Linked DNA regions of Homo sapiens: region 1 is linked to region 2. Evidence: fine-mapped expression QTL. A gene starts in region 2. The other region holds a variant in brackets. All regions are shown on one strand. Distances are from middle to middle.

Region 1 (2,900 bases), 35 kb before region 2:
CTTGAGCCCAGGAGTTCGAGACCAGCTTGGGCAACATAGCGAGAACCCACCCTCTACACAAAAAATACAAAAATTATCTAAGCATGGTGGTGCACACCTGTAGTTCCAGTTACAAAGAAGGCTGAGGCGGGAGGGTCGCCTGAGCCCAGGAGTTCAAGGCTGCAGTGAGCTATGATTGTACCATTGCACTCCAGCCTGGGCAACACAAGGAGACTCTGTTTCTAAAAAGAAATAAATAAAAGAAAAAGAAAGCCCTTTTGCAATCCCCAGGACCGCTTCTGCCCAAATGAGGCTGAAGAGCCTCGCCATGGAATGCCAACAGAGCTCAGGCAGGGATCACATCTGAGGACTGAGAGCACCCCCCTGCCTGTTTATGTCAGACCTGGGGATATCAATGGTGTCCATCCCAAGCCCTTGTCCACCCTTCCTCCATACCAGGTTAGCAGAGGAATTAACAGAGGGGCCAGGGCCAGGAAATGGTTAACCCAGGGAAGAGGAGCAGAAGACATTGATCATAGCCACTCCCTGTTGGGCAATAAGTCCCCTGGTAGCTGCTTTAGCTGACCTCCCTTTGGGACCACAGAGCTGGGGGTCACAGCTCCCAATCCGTCTGGAAGTGGGGGTGGGGGGCTCACGGCAGGACAGGAAAGTGGGGGAGGACCCTTGGGCCCTGTATTTTAGGGAGCCAGGAACCAGCAACGCCCCAGAGACTGGCAACCTTGACAAGACTGGCAGCTGTGGGAACAGGTGTGAGAGACCTTGGGCTGTGGAAAAGCCCTTGAGAGAACTGGAGCCCAGTCCTAAATTTGCTGTGTGTCTTTGGGAACTTTTCTCACCCTCTCTGTGTCTTAGTTCCTTCCTCTGTAAGATTGGGGAGGAGGCTCAATCAGTACAGCCAAGATTTTTTTAAAGCCAGAAATCTATGATGTTGGCTGGGTGCAGTGGCTCACACCTATAATCCCAACACTTTGGGAGGCCAAGGTGGGCAGATCACCTGAGGCCAGGAGTTCAAGATCAGCCTGGCCAACATGGTGAAACCCCGTATGTACTAAAAATACAAAATTAGCTGGGCATGGTGGTGCGCACCTGTAGTCCCAGCTACTCAGGAGGCTGAGGCAGGAGAATCTCTTGAACCCAGGAGGGGTAGGTTGCAGTGAGCCGAGATCGCACCACTGCACTCCAGCCTGGGTGACAGAGTGAGACTCTGTCTCAAAAAATAATAATAATAATAATAATAAAAGAAAGAAATTTATGTGTGGCAGTCACTTTTTTTTTTGAGACAGTGTCTTGCTCTATCACCCAGGTTAGAGTTCAGTGGCTCAATCATAGCTCACTACAACCTCAGCCTCCCAAGTAGTTGGAACTACAGTCTATTTTTTAGTAGCCCAGCAAATTTTTTATAGAAACAGGGATCTCACTATGTTGACTAGGCTGGTCTCAAACTACCAGCCTCAAGTGATCCTCTCACCTTGGCCTCCCACAGTGCTGGTATTACAAGTGTACATCACCGCGCCCGGTCACGTAATTTTTTTTTTATCTTGTTTTGCCCTTGTTGCCCAGGCTGGAGTGCAATGGTACGATCTTGGCTCACTGCAACCTCCGCCTCCCAGGTTCAAGCAATTCTCCTGCCTCAACCTTCCAA[C/G]TAGCTGGGATTACAGGCATGCACCACCACACCCAGCTAATTTTTTATTTTTAGTAGAGACGGGATTTCACCATGTTGGTCAGGCTGGTCTCGAACTCCTGACCTCAGGTGATCCGCCCACCTTGGCCCCCCAAAGTGTTGGGATTACAGGCGTGAACCACTGGCCATTTTTAATAATCAATTTTCTTAAATAAAGAAGGGAGTTTAGAGACATTTGGCCATGACTCCCATAAATTGAGAAACTATACTATCGTCTATTTATTTGTTGCCAACAATCCTTCACAATGCCACAGTTTTATGATGGAATTTTAGTAGAATTAACTTTCACCATCTTCAAATAATATTATTAGCCTTCAGCTTAGATTCCAGTGTCTAAAAGACCCTGTTTAGCTAATGCAACTCCAGCAACAAACCCTACTGTGGTAAGATCACCTACTGAACTACAGTTCAGTAGTTCCAGCAGAACCCTAGGTGACTGGCCAGGCACAGTGGCTCACGCCTGTAATCCCAGCACTTTGGGAGGTTGAGGCAGGTGGATCACCTGAGGTCGGGGTTCGAGACCAGCCTGACCAACACGGAGAAACCCTGTCTGTACTAAAAATACAAAATTAACCAGGTGTGGTGGCACATGCCTGTAATCCCAGCTACTCAGGAGGCTGAGGCAGGAGAATCATTTGAACCCGGGAGGCAAAGTTTGCAGTGAGCTGAGATCGCGCCATTGCACTCCAGCCTGGGCAACAAGAGCGAAACCCCATCTCAAAGAAAAAAAAAAAGAATCCTAGGTGACCTGTGAACTAGGGACAGGTCTTTGTTCAGCCTGATGCTTGGGCCCAGAGGGAGGATTTGAGTCAGTGAGTACCCAAGAGCGAGAGGCTGCAGTTAAGATGGAGAGCTGGGGCTGCAGGAGGTGGCTGAGTTGGCTCCTAGCGCAGTACTCAGAGCAGGGAGTTGGGAAGAAGGGAAGTTGGTAGGTACTTTCTGCCTATGCAGGGAAGAAGCAGGATCCCAAGGCAGGGGATTGAATGGGAAGGAGTCGGTCGTGGAAGATGGACACGCCTTGCTGACCACAGCTGTCTCATTCACTCCATCTCTTCTCTTTCCTCTCCCTGGTGATCCTGGGTCAGAGAGAAAAGGGACTCTCTCTCTCTCTCTTTTTTTTTTCTTTTTGAGACGGAGTCTCGCTCTTGTTGCTCAAGATGGAGTGCAGTGACTCGATCTCTCAGCTCACTGCAACCTCTGCCTCCCAGGTTCAAGCAAT
Region 2 (2,900 bases):
TCGGGGGTTGGGTGCAGAGCAGTGTTAACATCCTTCTGTAAGAGAAACGGAGGCTTTTGAGAGGCCAGGCGTGGCGGCTCATGCCTGTCATCCCGGCACCTTGGAAGGAGGATCCATTTGGGTCCAGGAGTTCCCGGCACTTTGGAAGGAGGATCATTTGGGTCCAGGAGTTCAAGACCAGCCTGGGCAACATGGGGGAAACCCTGTCTCTACAAAAAAAAAAAAAAAAAAAAAAAAAAAGCTGGGCGTGGTGGTGTGCCCTGGTAGTCCTAGCTACTCAGGGTGCTTGAGGCAGGAGGATTGCTTGAGCCCAGGAGGCGCAGGATGCAGTTAACCGTGATCGCGCCACTGCACTCCAGCCTGGGCGACAGAGCAAGACTCTGTCTTGGAAAACAAACAAACAACAAATACAATAAATTAAAAAAATTAGTTGGGTGTGGTGGCACACAGCTGTAGTCCCAGCTACTCAAGAGGCTGTGGCAGGAGGATCCCTTGAGACCAGGAGTTCAAGACCAGCCTGGGCAATGTTATGAGACACGCCACCCGCCCAGTCTTTACAGAGAATAAAAAAGTTATCTGGGTGTGATGGTGCACACCTATAGTCCCAACAATTCAGGAGGCTGAGATGGGAGGATCGCTTGAGACACGGGAGTTGGAGGCTGCCGTAAGCCGAGATCGGGCTAGTACACTGCAGCTGGGGCAACAGAGTGAGACCCTGCTTCAAAAAAATAAATAAATAGGGGCCGGGCGCGGTGGCTCACGCCTGTAATCCCAGCACTTTGGGAGGGCGAGACAGGCGGATCACTTGAGTGGTCAGGAGTTCTAGACCAGCCTGGCCAACAAAAATAAGCCAAACGTGGTGGTGTGTGCTTGTAATCTCAGCTACTCGGGAGGCCAAGGCATGAGAATCACTTGAATCCGGGAGGCGGAGGCTGCAGTGAGCCGAGATCGCGCCACTGGACTGCAACCTGGGGGACAGAGCAACACTCTGTCTCAATAATTAAATAAATAATTAAAAAAATAAAGAGGCTCCTGAGAGTCAACTTATTTGCCTGAGCCACTTATTTCACACATCCCAGGACGCCTGATGAAGGGTTCTGGATTTTATTGTCTCCTGTCATCCAGGCGGGCTTCCTGGAGGAAACCGGACCGCCAGGGAGGCCGCGGCCTCGGTCCCAGAGGTCGCGCGTCGCGGGGCCGGGGGAGGTGGGGGAGAGGAGGCCGCTCTGGGGCCGATCCCGCCCGCAGCTGGGGGCCCCCGTCACGTGACCAGCCGGGCGCCCAGGTCACGTGTCGGGGCGGGGAGGGGGGGGGCTGTCGGGGGCGACGGGCGTCCGGGCAGTGGCGCGCGCGGCACGCGAGCAGCGCACGAGGAGAGGTGGCGCGGGCCGGAGCCGCGGAGGGAGGCGGCGGCGGCGGCGGCGGCGGCGGCGGCGGCGGCGGCGGCGGCGGCGGCGGCGGCGGCGGCGGCGGCGGTGGAAGGGGCGGCCCCGCGGCCCCGCGTCCGCGTCACGTGGTGCGAGGCGGGCAGCCATCTTGCTACAAACACAAACACAGAGGAGCGGCCGCCGCGGGAGCGCCAGCGCCCCCTCCCCCGCTGCTAGCCGCCGTCGCCGTCCCCGGCCCCCGCCCGCCGCGCGCCGCCCACGCCCCGGGACCGGACCCTCGCGCCGCCCGCGGTAAGCGCCCAGTGGCCCCGCGGCCCCCGGCCCGCAGCCCAGCCCCGGGGCAGGCCCGCCCCCGACGCCGCGGCGGCCGCGCCGAGCCCGCGAGCTAGAGAAGCGCCGGAGCCAGCGCGCGGGCCGCCAGCGAGGACCCTCCCCCGTCTCCTCCCCGAGGCCGCCGCAGCCCGGTGCGTCCTCCCGCTCTCCCGCCCGCTCCGGCCCATCCCCGCCGCCGGGACCCTCCCCCAGAGCCGGCCAGCCTCGGGGAGGCCCCGGGAGGCCGGCGCCCGGCTTAGGGGGCGACCGCTCGCCCCCCTCGCACCTGGCGCCCCTCCCTGAAGGGCACGCCGTCCTCCCGGGCCGGCGCGCTGCCTTCCACCCCCGCGCTCCTAACGGTCGCCCCCGGGCCCCTGCCAAGCCCTGCCCTGGGCCGCCTGGGGGCCCCCGACCCTAGCGTCCTAGGGTGGCCGGGCCCCGCGCTTCCCGGAGTTCTCCCCAGCGCGCCTTTGGGTTCCCCTCGGAACGAGCTGGGCCTTGCGGTTCCCCAGGTCCAAGCGTTCCACGACTTTGGCCAACATGGAAGCCTTGCCCTCCACCCAGGCACCTCGCCTGGGTCCTCCTCACCTCTGTTTCCTTTCGCTCCGGCGATCTTAGTGCTGGGTCATTGGGGTCTCCTTCTTCCCAGTTGCTCGGCCGCGGGAAATACCTTCCTTAGCAGAGACTGCTTGTCCTCCCCGTCCCAGGCCAGGCCCTTCTCAGCTCATGCCCCTCCGTGCAGCAGCTCCCTGGCCACAGCTCTCACACTTTGCCTTAAAAAAAAAAAAAAACAAAAAAATTTCCGAGTAACTTTTTAAAAGCCCCTCGTCTCTCTTCTCTGTTATACAGTCATTACTCGCATTCCCGGTCAGACTCCAGGTCTGTTGCATCCTAGTGCTAGGAACTAGGAGATGCTACATAAAGACTTGTTAGCTGGATTGGATTTTTTTTTTCCAGCCACCCAAGCCTTACTTCCCTCCTGCCTCTCAAAGTGTCGTTCTGGAAGATCGTCAGCTTTCCCACCCTCTTGTGCACTGCCTCTTCGAGTCTATATAGAAGTTTCAATTTAGAACCCCGCCAACCCCTCGCCTTTGGCATGGAAACACCATCGGTGGTACCAGTAAGGGTCTCTCCTTTGCTGCCGACATGGGGGATTTGGGGTTCTTTCTCCTTCCCATCTTTCCTGTGCCCTTTGCAGAC

Evidence for each region. PIP is the estimated chance that this variant, and not a neighbour inherited with it, causes the effect. A credible set is the group of variants that fine-mapping cannot tell apart.
Region 1: its variant is the best candidate, but not a certain one, in a credible set for the expression of GIGYF1 in lung (TOPMed, PIP 0.72).

Annotation. Positions count from the first base shown.
Region 1 is chr7:100,728,209-100,731,108 of GRCh38, reverse strand. No RefSeq gene overlaps it. Among named protein-coding and RNA genes, the nearest start is that of ZAN, 3.9 kb to the left of the region's middle. The variant C/G (reference allele first, on the strand shown) is at 1,643.
Region 2 is chr7:100,692,889-100,695,788 of GRCh38, reverse strand. It overlaps GIGYF1 (GRB10 interacting GYF protein 1), which reads left to right and starts at 1,539. Exons shown (of 27, transcript NM_001375765.1): 1 at 1,539-1,679. RefSeq lists an enhancer at 1-433, silencers at 1,121-1,280, 1,721-1,820, 1,991-2,110 and a cis regulatory region at 972-2,465.